Linked DNA regions of Homo sapiens. The protein of the gene in region 1 purifies or fractionates together with the protein of each later gene. This does not show direct contact. Each region holds a gene or a part of one and is shown in the gene's direction. Other genes may lie near its edges.

Evidence for each region.
Region 2: the proteins of ZNF718 (region 1) and LSS purify together in Homo sapiens (affinity purification with mass spectrometry; one large-scale study listed by BioGRID and IntAct). This does not show direct contact.
Region 3: the proteins of ZNF718 (region 1) and OGDHL purify together in Homo sapiens (affinity purification with mass spectrometry; one large-scale study listed by BioGRID and IntAct). This does not show direct contact.

Annotation. Positions count from the first base shown.
Region 1 is NC_000004.12:130,981-134,627, forward strand, and holds part of ZNF718 (zinc finger protein 718), read left to right. Parts: intron 1-429; coding exon 430-525; intron 526-3,647. UniProt on the Homo sapiens protein: May be involved in transcriptional regulation.
Region 2 is NC_000021.9:46,208,200-46,211,846, reverse strand, and holds part of LSS (lanosterol synthase), read left to right. Parts: intron 1-1,102; coding exon 1,103-1,159; intron 1,160-2,221; coding exon 2,222-2,293; intron 2,294-3,545; coding exon 3,546-3,596; intron 3,597-3,647. UniProt on the Homo sapiens protein: Key enzyme in the cholesterol biosynthesis pathway. Catalyzes the cyclization of (S)-2,3 oxidosqualene to lanosterol, a reaction that forms the sterol nucleus.
Region 3 is NC_000010.11:49,748,722-49,752,368, reverse strand, and holds part of OGDHL (2-oxoglutarate dehydrogenase-like, mitochondrial), read left to right. Parts: intron 1-120; coding exon 121-236; intron 237-387; coding exon 388-542; intron 543-1,383; coding exon 1,384-1,530; intron 1,531-2,552; coding exon 2,553-2,643; intron 2,644-3,647.

The DNA of each region.
Region 1 (3,647 bases):
TGTCTCTTGAGAGCTTCTGCTTTGCATGAATTAATTTCAGTTCCTTCACGAAAAAGTTGGGAGTTTGGTGGTATAAAAAATAAAATCTTTAGGATGTTTCATCTTTACATAAACCTTCTTTTGAGCTAATTTGTTTCCTTCGCTCTAGGCTAGTGGTAATTCTAGAAATTAATGATATAAAATAATTGTCTTTCACATCTTAACATGCAATTTGCACTACTTATTTTTGATTCAGTAGTACTCGGTAGTGGAACTTAAAGCCCACAGATTTAAAATACTTAAATATTCTACAGATTCTGTCGGAAAACAATTTTTGGATTAATTTTCTAGAATCTTCCCTAATTTCTCTATTCTACTTAGCATAGTACTAGGTTGGTAATTGGAGTATCCCCAGCAATAGTCATGTTAATTTTTTTTTTAATAAAACAGGTGTTAGTATCTCTAACCCAGACCTGGTCACCAGTCTGGAGCAAAGAAAAGAGCCCTACAATTTGAAGATACATGAAACAGCAGCCAGACCCCCAGGTAGGTGAGAGTGAATGGAGGAGAGGACACAGACAAGGAGGCCAAAAGTCAAGAAGGAAGCCAGGCCTTCAAATGTTGTTTGAGAGGCTGAGCACCGTGGCTCACGCCTGTAATCCCAGCACTTTGGGAGGCCGAGGTGGGTGGATCACCTGAGATCAGGAGTTCAAGACCAGCCTAGCCAACATAGTGAAACCCCGTCTCTACTAAAAATACAAAAATTAGCCGGGTGTGGTGGCGGGCGCCTGTAATCCCAGCTACTTGGGAGGCTGAGGCAGAGAGAATTGCTTAAAAACACAGGAGGCGGCCGAGGCGGGTGGATCATGAGGTCAGGAGATCGAGACCATCCTATCTAACATGGTGAAACTCCATCTCTACTAAAAATACAAAAAATTAGCCGGGTGTGGTGGCGGGCGCCTGTAGTCCCAGCTACTCAGGAGGCTGAGGCAGGAGAATGGCGTGAACCCAGGAGTCGGAGCTTGCAGTGAGCCGAGATCGTGCCACTGCACTCCAGCCTGAGCGACAGAGCGAGACTCCGTCTCAAAAAAAAAAAAAACCCAGGAGGCAGAGGTTGCGGTCGGCTGAGATCGTGCCACTGCACTCCAGCCTGGGCGACAGAGCGAGATTCAGTCTCAAAAAAAAAAAAAAAAACCCAGGAGGCAGAGGTTGTGATTGCGCCACTGCACTCCCTCCTGGGCAATATAGAGCTAGACTCTGTCTCAAATAAATAAATAAATGTAGTTTGGGAAGCTCTGTGACAAAGAAAATAATTTCTGAAAAGGCTGCATTTTTTCTCTTAGGGTCATCTTCTCTCCCATGCTCTTAAATCTAAGAATTCTGTTTTTCCTTTAGTGATCTCCCTTCAAGTTTACAGGGAGTGCCAGTGTCCACTTTATCACTTACAAAGGGCTACATGATCTGACTGCTGTTCATTGCTTTTGGGGACCTGGGAACATTTGTATTATTGAGGAGCTCTATGTTAAAGTTTTTCTTTTTTTCAAATATTGTCTTTGCATCATGTCTAAAATGTGTACGGTGACTAGTGGATATATTGGGATTTGGTTCAGAGATCCCAGGAACACCAGAGACAGTTGTTGCAGGTATTGCATCTTTTCTGCTTAGTGATTTTTAATCCTATAGAGGTTGCAAATGTAATTCTACAAAAATTCTTACTCAGCAATTTTATCAGAACAATAAGTGTTTTCCTAAATATGAAAAAATGTAATTTTATTTTACTTCAAAATGTTATTGTTTTAATATAAACTGAGATTTGTAATTTAAACTCTATTTTTGCAAGTTTTCAAATTATTTAAAGCATGGGTTTCCAACCTTTTGGCTTCCTTGGACCACATTGGAGGAAAAATTGTCTTGGCCACACATAAAATACAGTAACGTGGCCGGACACGGTGGCTCACACCTGTAATCCCAGCACTTTGGGAGACCGAGGGGGCAGATCATGAGGTCAGGAGTTAGAGACCAGCCTGGCAAGCATGGTGAAACCCCATCTCTACTAAAAATACAAAAATTAGCCTGGCATGGTTGTGCGCACCTGTAATCCCAGCTACTTGGGAGGCTGAGGTAGGAGAATTGCTTGACCCCAGGAGGTGGAGTTTGCAGTGAGCTGAGATCGTGCCACAGGCACTCCAGCCTGGGCAACACAGCAAGACTCCATCTTAAAAAAAAAAAAAAAAAAATATATATATATATATATATATATATATATATATGGTAACACTAATAATAGCTGATGAGTTTAAAAAAAAAAAGGTTTGTGAATAATTTTTGTGATATCCACTACCACAGATAAGTAAAAATGCCCTCACATTCAAAGGGTTGGCCACCACTGATTTAAGGTATCTACTCACCTTCTAGATTTCTTAAATGCACTGTCATCAACCAGCTTAGAACATTGCTAAGTGTATAGTAAGCTCTCAATTATTACCTTATTTCTTAATAACTATTATCTTTTAATTTTGTCTTATTTAGTAGGAAGCCTACTGAAGTTCTGTTGAGATCTATCTATATATAAAAATGTGTGTCTCACACACATACACATACCTATATAAGTTATATATGTGTATAATAAATTCTTACTTAACTTTGCTGATAGGTTCTTGGAAACAGTAAGTGAAGCAACATATTAAGTAAACTAATTTTTACCAGAATTTAATACAAGAGTTATGTTTGCATGACATATAGCAACAATGTTCATTTAAAGATGCACTTTTCATGAACCTATTTTGAACATAAAGTGAGGACTTACTGTACATACATGTGCAACCTGGATTTTTCTGATAAATAAAAATTGTATAATGTGTACAGTATAATGATTTGATATGTATATACATTGTAAAATAAAATATAGTCAAGTTAGTGAACACATCTATTACCTCAGGTAGATAACCAGTTTTTTTGTAGTAAGAACACTTAAGGTCTACTGTTGTAGCAAATTGTAAGCATACATTACAGTATTACTAACTATAAATAATGCTATTTTGCTGATCTAATGCTGAATGTACTTTAGATTTTTCAGAGTTACTCAAGTTACAACTAAAAATTTGTACTCTTTGAACAACATTTCCGTATTTTCCACCCTCAGGCACTAACAATCACCATCAATCAATGTTAAAGTTTTTTTGTTTTGTTTTGTTTTGTTTTGTTTTTGAGATGGAGTCTCGCTGTCACCCAGGCTGGAGTGCAGTGGCGCGATATCTACTCACTGCAAGGTCTGCCTCCCGGGTTCACACCATTCTCCTGCCTCAGCCTCCCAAGTAGCTGGGACTACAGGTGCCCGCCACCACGCCCGGCTAATTTTTTGTATTTTTAGTAGAGATGGGGTTTCACCATGTTAGCCAGGATGGTCTCTATCTGACCTCGTGATCTGCCCACCTCGGCCTCCCAAAGTGCTGGGGATTACAGGCGTGAGCCACCGTGCCCAGCCAATCAGTGTTAAAGTTGTTTAAGGTTACACTTAAGTTTCAAAATTGTGTTTTCTATTACTGTGAAAAATGACACTAAAATTTTCACTTTGAATATATAGATCACTTATGATAATACGGTACTTTGACAGTATTAGTTATTCTAATGGAATATTTTTCCATTTATTTGTGTCTACTGAAATTTCT
Region 2 (3,647 bases), on another chromosome or scaffold:
AGTCCAGCCGTCTCTCGTGGTCTCTTTTCTCCTCCTGGAAGGTTTGTTCCTGAAGGGCTTCACATTGCAGATCTGACTGGTTGCTTCTTATGTTCCCTGAGTTTTTGTAAACTGGCCAGGCCCTGAGGCTCGATCCCATTGTGTTTCTTTGGCGAGAATGCTTTTCTGGTGGTCCCTGCCTTGTCCCTCCAGTGCACGATGTCTGGATGCCTCTGCCACACACCACCCCCTGCCCAGTCCCCATGTCTGTCTGGTCAGTGCCCAGCTCTGTCTCACTAGGGTTTGGTCACCGGCCCTTTGAACTGAGACCAGGCTGTGTACCTGTGAGCCCAGCTCGGGGTGAGATTTGAGGTGGAGCCTTCCCAGCCCTGTGCAGAATTCCCATCACCTCCAGGTGTACTCAGAAATGGGGATCATTGGCCAGGTGCGGTGGCTCACGCCTGTAATCCCTACACTTTGGGAGGCCAAGGTGGGCGGATCACAAGGTCAGGAGATAGAGACCATCCTGGCTAACATGGTGAAACCCCGATGCTACTAAAAAATACAAAAAAAATTAGCTGGGTGTGCTGGCAGGAGCCTGTAATCCCAGCTACTCCGGAGGCTGAGGCAGGAGAATGGCGTGAACCCAGGAGGCGGAGCTTGCAGCGAGCTGAGATCACGCCACTGCACTCCAGCCTGGGCAACAGAGCGAGACTTCATCTCAAAAAAAAAAGAAATGGGGTCATTTCCAGGCATCACCATGACTGAGGTGCGCCACTGTCATTGGGTGAGAGCAGCTGGATGCTCTATGTGTAGGTGCTGGAGCCTCTAAGGGATCGTCCAGTCCTAGAAGTGTCCTCAGAGGGACACTGTCCTGCCTGGTGGCCCATGAAGAAAGGGAGGGCTCCCTGAGTCTCCCCGACGTGTGTCTGCCTGCAGGGCTCAGCCTTCTCTGAGGCCCTTGTCAGCCATGAGGGGTGCCCAGGGCTCAGAGCCTGAGGCTGAGCGTTGGCTGGGTGGGAGCCCCCACACCTGGCCCTCAGGCGCCCATTGGATCCTGGAGGCAGTGGCTGGGAGTGGGAGGGGCTGCATCTGCTGCTGTAACACCATCCTTTGTGTGTAGGGCACCAACGGCTCACAGATCTGGGACACCGCATTCGCCATCCAGGCTCTGCTTGAGGTTCGTGGCTCCTTCTCTTTTCTCAGCCTCAGCTGACCTTCCTGTGCACGTGAGCCCACGCATCCACCTGAGGGCAGCACTGCTGGCCACACACTTGCCACTCCTCGATACTTCCAGTGACCTGGGCTCTGGCCTCTGGCTTCAGAGGGTCGTGCTGTGGAGGGGGCGGCCTTGGCCAGCAGCCTTGGGTGTTGGGCTGGGTCGGGGGCCTTGGGAGGGCAGGGGCTGGAGGCTGTGTGAGAAGGGGAGTCTGGTGAAGGCTGTTTCTGAGAGTGCAGGCAGGAGTGGGACTCCAGGCTCTTCTTAGAACTGGAACTGCTTGGGCCAGGCACGGTGGCTCACACCTGTAATCCCAGCACTTTGGGAGGCCGAGGAGGGTGGATCACGAGGTCAGGAGTTCAAGACCAGCCTGGCCAAGATGGTGAAACCCCGTCTCTACTAAAAGTACACAAAAATTAGCCAAGCGTGGTGGCGGGCACCTGTAATCCCAGCTACTTGGGAGGCTGAGGCAGAGAATTGCTTGAACCCGGGAAGTGGAGGGTGCAGCGAGCCGAGATTGTGCCACTGCACTCCAGCCTGGGTGACAGAGAGAGGCTCCGTCTCAAAAAAAAAAAAAAAAAAAAAGAACTGGAACTGTTTGTTATGGGCATTCTCGAGCCAGTACTGGAGAAAAACGAGAGTGGATTTTTATGCCGGTGGGAATGAGGTAGGTGGGATTCTGAAGGTGTTTCTGGAGAGCCCTGAGGGCTGGGCCACGCAAAGGGCCTGCCTACACAGGGTGCTGGAGACCCTCTGGGCATGGATGCTGGCCAGGCAGGGGGGTGCTGGCATCCATAAATGGTCTCCTGCGCCCTTCCATCTTCAGTCATATCTCATGGACTTTTGCTGTTTTGTCTTTAAAGGTAAGTGCAGCAGGAGACCCTGGCACTCTCTGGAGATGTCTGCTGGTTTGATTCTGGTCCCCGGTTGGGGCAGGATGTGGCCAGGACCATCGGGAAACCAGCGCAGCCATGCTGGCCGTGCAAGGGCAGCTGAGCCTCTCTGTCCTGCTGTCTCTTCCAGGCGGGCGGGCACCACAGGCCCGAGTTTTCGTCCTGCCTGCAGAAGGCTCATGAGTTCCTGAGGCTCTCACAGGTGAGGCCGGTGCCTGGGGCTCTGAGGGGGCTGAAGAGGGGGATCAGGGCTGGGAGCTCCTGCAGGCAGAAGTGCCCACCTCACCTCCACCCTGCCCTATTTCCTGCACTGGTGTTTCAGGTCACCCCCACCCTCCCATCCCCTCCCTAGCCCCTGCTCCATCCACCGGTCCTCCTCGGGCTGGCCTCACCTGGGGCAGCTCTCTGAGGCCTGCAGGGTGCTGGGGGTGCTGGCAGTTTCTGCGTCCTGCTCATGTTGGAGCCACTGTGTGCAAGGGCCAGGCACGGGCAGGGGCTGTGTACCCTGAGCTGCACAGCCTACACGGCACCTCCATGTCTCTGAAGCACCTTCTGCCCATGGAGGTGACGCCAGCCTGTGGACTTGCCCTCCTGAGACTGTTTGCAGCAAAAGCCCCGGTCCCTCCTGCCAGATCAGCTGCCCACAGACCCTGCCCGAGCCCATAGTTTGACCTCAGTGTCTCTCACACGTGCCTGCACCCCAGTCTGCAGCCACAGTCATCCCATACATGCGCCCCAACCTCCCGTGTCTCCCACACCCTGTCCCGGCCACGGCCTCAGCCAGTGTCCCTCTGCCTGGAACCGCTGCCCCCCAGCCCCGTCTCCCTCCCTTCAGCTCTCACTAGGACATTGTTCTGCAGGGCTTCTGGGTCTTCCTGGCCTCTGTGTGGCCAAGGCTGGCACCCATCTTGGGCTCAAGCAGAGGAGGGGCATTGTCCTGCTGTGCCTGGCCCAATGGTGGCCTGCTCCTGCTCCTGCCTCCTGCCCAGGACTTGCTCTGGGTGATGGGGACTTGGGGAGGCTGACTGAACCCTACGGCACTCCAGGCCTCTTCCCTTCTCACTGAGGTGAGAGAGGCAGCCAGAAGCTGAGGTTGTTCAGGAGGCATTGGGGGCGCCTGGCACAGAGCACACCCGCAGAGACCTGGGCCCCCTCCCTGCCTTCTGGCCGGTGGGGAGATCACAGGGGAGTCAGGTGCTGACTCCCAGTCCCGTCTGGGCTGGTTTGAGCCCTCGCTGGCCAGTCACGTTTCCCAGCAGCTGTGGGTGGTGAGCTAAACAGGTGCAGGCCCTCGCGCGCCTCGCAGCACCAGTGGTGGCTGTGGCCGGCAGAGTAAGCTCCCAGGCACGTTCTGCCTCTCCAGTCCTGCCCAGTCTGTCTCAGCGATGTCCCAGATGGGGACGTCCCGTGGTGACGTGTTCTCTGCTTCCACATTTGCCCTCGATGCTGCCCAGGTCCCAGATAACCCTCCCGACTACCAGAAGTACTACCGCCAGATGCGCAAGGTATGCGGGAGCCAGCCCCATCCCTGTCCCGTCCCCCAGGGGAGGCCGCCC
Region 3 (3,647 bases), on another chromosome or scaffold:
GACCCAGAGGGAGGGCACTGGGGAGACTGGGAGGTCTGGTGAGACTGCGGGGCTCCACCTGGGCCTGACCTCCCTCCCTCCACTTTGCTGCCCGGGGCTCGGCCACGCCTCCTTCTCCAGCCTTCTATGACCTTCAGGAGGCTGACCTTGATAAGGAGTTCCAGCTGCCGACAACCACCTTCATTGGGGGCTCTGAAAACACCCTCTCTCTGCGGGAGATCATTCGGCGCCTGGAGGTGAGCACAGGCGGGTGTGTGGGGTGCAGCTGAAGCAGCTCTTTGGAGCTTGCCAGAGGACGGGAAGGCACTGTCTTTTTTGTTCTAGACAGCAGGGATGTCAGCCGTCCCTCTTCCCCGCTCCTCATGGGGTCCCAATGTGTCTCCCCAGAACACCTACTGCCAGCACATTGGCCTGGAGTTCATGTTCATCAACGATGTGGAGCAGTGCCAGTGGATCCGGCAGAAGTTTGAGACCCCTGGTGTGATGCAGTTCTCCAGCGAGGAGAAGCGGACCCTGCTGGCCCGGCTAGTGCGCTCCATGAGGTTGGCACCACCTGGAGGGCCAAGTGGCTGGAGGTCCTGCTCCAGGGCTCTATGAGACGTCCCACACCCTGCCTAAGAGAGCAGGAGGGTACCACAGGAAGGCAGGACTGGATCGGCCTCACCACTGGCTGCAGGGAGGAGAGTTGGGACCAGGTGTTTAGGCAGTTTGGCCAAGAGCTGGCCCAAGGCAGAGCAGGTCAGGTGGGCAGGGATGAGGCTCTAGGAGAACAAGAGAGCGGGGACACTGAGCAAGGCCAGAAGTGGCGGGAAGTGGCTGTGGGAACATTTGGGCAGAAAATTATCCCTGGTGTGGAGTGACTGTGGCCACACCACCTGTCTGTTCACTGGACTTTTCTGAAGCTGGGTCCCCCAGGGCTGCAGGGGCTGGGGGAGCACCTGACTCAGCTGCTGGATGCAAAGTGGATTCCTGAGCAGCGAGGTGTGGGCTGGAGTTTGGATCTGGCTGGGTGGAGATCTTTGGGACTTGGCGAAGAGAGCCCTTGAGTGTGGCAGGAGGGTAGTGGGCTAGGAGTGGGTGGGCAGTGGCCTGTTGGAGGAGCTTGGCTATGAGGAAGAGAGAGGGCGGCAGCTGGGAAGGGGTGTAGGCAGAGGCGTTTGGTTCAGCTGGGAAGATGCCTAGCCTCCCCTAACCCTGTGTTCCTTTGCTGGGTGGGACAGGTGTATCCATGGTGGGCCCTGGACCATGTAGGTGGAAGGAGGATTTGTGACTTCCTCTGTCCTCAGCATTCAGCTCTGAGCACTCATGAACAGCCCCTGTGAGCCCCAGTCCCCTCCCTCTCCATCCCTTTCCCTTTCCTCTTCCCATCCTCTCCCCAAGCAGGTTTGAAGACTTCCTGGCCCGGAAATGGTCCTCAGAGAAGCGGTTTGGCCTGGAGGGCTGTGAAGTGATGATTCCTGCCCTCAAGACCATCATCGACAAATCCAGCGAGATGGGGATTGAGAATGTCATCTTGGGGATGCCACACAGGTGGGTCCCCCTCCCTGCTGTGCCTTGCGCATTCTCCTCCAGCCCAGGGGACAGAGGTGGGAGAGATGAGATGGAAATCAGAGCGGAGGTGTTGGTGGGACCTGGGGGTAGAGGTGGGTTTCCTGGAAAGTTCTGAGTCCTGGGCCTGGCCTGCTCGTCACAGAAATTGCCGGGTACTTGGCCAGAGTCACCTGGGGCCGGGTGCTAACCAGGTTATCAGGCACCCTCTCTCCCTGGCCATGTTGCCTCTGTCCCTAGCAAGGGTGAGATTTCAGAAAGCGGTACACTATACTTCTTGAGGTTCCTGTGGACAAGGAGAGGTGGAGGGATTTCTTCCAGGGAAGGGAGGGCAGGGCCTGGGCAGTTGTTCCCGGGTTGTGTCCCCAACAGGGAGGTCTGTGGAGGTGAGCCGAGGGTCTCTGACCTGGCTGCAAGCTGACTGCGTGTTCCCTTGACCTTGATGAAGATCTAGGAGGCTTGCTCAGCAGTGGGGCGTTACCTCTGAGCTGGAGCCTGTGGGGAAGCAGGAGGGGGAATGCACCCTGGGGGACAGAGACGTCTGTGGCCAGGGGTCCTGCTGAGTGGGCATGTGCAGATGTGCAGAGTGGCCTGTGGGAAGGGCCCTGGGCTTTTCCCGTGACCAGAGAGCTGCTTGTGGTTGGACTAGCCCAGGGCTACATCAGCATGAGGGCATCCAAATGCATGGTGCAGGGGTCCCCATTCGTGGCTGGCCTGCCAGGACTTTGGGGTTTGTCTGTCATGGGGGGCCTGGGAATGCCCAGTGTCTGGTCAGAGAGTTAGGCAGAGCTGGCCCAGTGGCCTGAGGCAGCAAGAAAGCATGGGGCTTTAAGCCTCGGGCCATTACAGCAGCAGGAGAGGATGGTGCCTGGTGATTGGGTGGCCTGAGGAGGGCTCTGGGCACGAAGGGGCTGTATTAGGCCAGGCCAGGCCTCCACAGTGGGGGAGGGAACCCTGAGGCCTGCGGGCTTTGCCAGGTGAGAGCCCGGCCCCTCTGGCTCCAGGGGAAGGCTGAACGTGCTGGCCAACGTGATCCGCAAGGACCTGGAGCAGATCTTCTGCCAGTTTGACCCCAAGCTGGAGGCGGCGGACGAGGTGGGTGCCATGCCCAGGTCCCGGCACCCTTGGAGAGCTGGGTGTTTGGGAGGTGGACTGTGGAGGGGCTGAGCCGGGAGCTTCCGGGCTGAGATAAACCTTAAGATGGATGCATTGGAGAAGCCTGCAGGAGAGAGGCTGGGTGTTTGCCTGAGGACCCTAAGGCTTTTTGGAGCAAGGGCTGCAGTCTCTGGTAGCTGGGAGGGCCCTCAGATAATCTGGGTCAACCTCCCTGTTTTGAGCTAGGGAAACTGAAGCCCAAAGATGCAAAGGCTTGCTGGAAGTTGCTCAGTTCTGCTCATGTGGCTGTGCCTCCATGTCCAAAGTCCTGTCCACCAGCCAGGAATGACTCCCTTGCTCATTTGTTTGCCCAGCAGAGCCTTGGGAGGTGAGGATGGTTTTCCGTACCCATCGACCTGCTGAGGAAATGTTGTTCCTGCTCCCACCCCCTCCCTGGGAGGCCTGGGCCAGGCCTTCAGCCCATACTGCCTAGCCTCTTTCTTTCCTTTTCTTTTTGAGATGGGGTTTTGCTCTTGTTGCCCAGGCTGGAGTGCAATGGCATGATCTTGGCTCACTGCAACCTCTGCCTCCTGGGTTCAAGCGATTCTCCTGCCTCAACCTTCCAAGCAGCTGGGATTACAGGCATGCGCCACCACGCCCGGCTAATTTTTGTATTTTTAGTAGAGATGGGGTTTTGCCATGTTGGTCAGGCTGGTCTTGAACTCCTGGCCTCAGGTGATCTGCCTGCCTCGGCCTCCCAAAGTGCTGGGATTACAGGCATGGAGCCACCGCTTCCGGCCACTGCCTAGCCTCTTTCAAAGTCCTGCCCATCTTCCCTTTCGGTGGCTCTCTGGGTCCCCTGGGCAGTGAGCCTGTCACTCCCTCCTCTGTGTCCCTTTGCCCTCAGGACTATCTCTCCTGCTGTCTCCAGCCTGCTGCCGTGTGTGTGTGTGTGTGTGTGTGTGTGTGTGTGTGTGTGTGTGGACCCATACCTACTGGCTCCT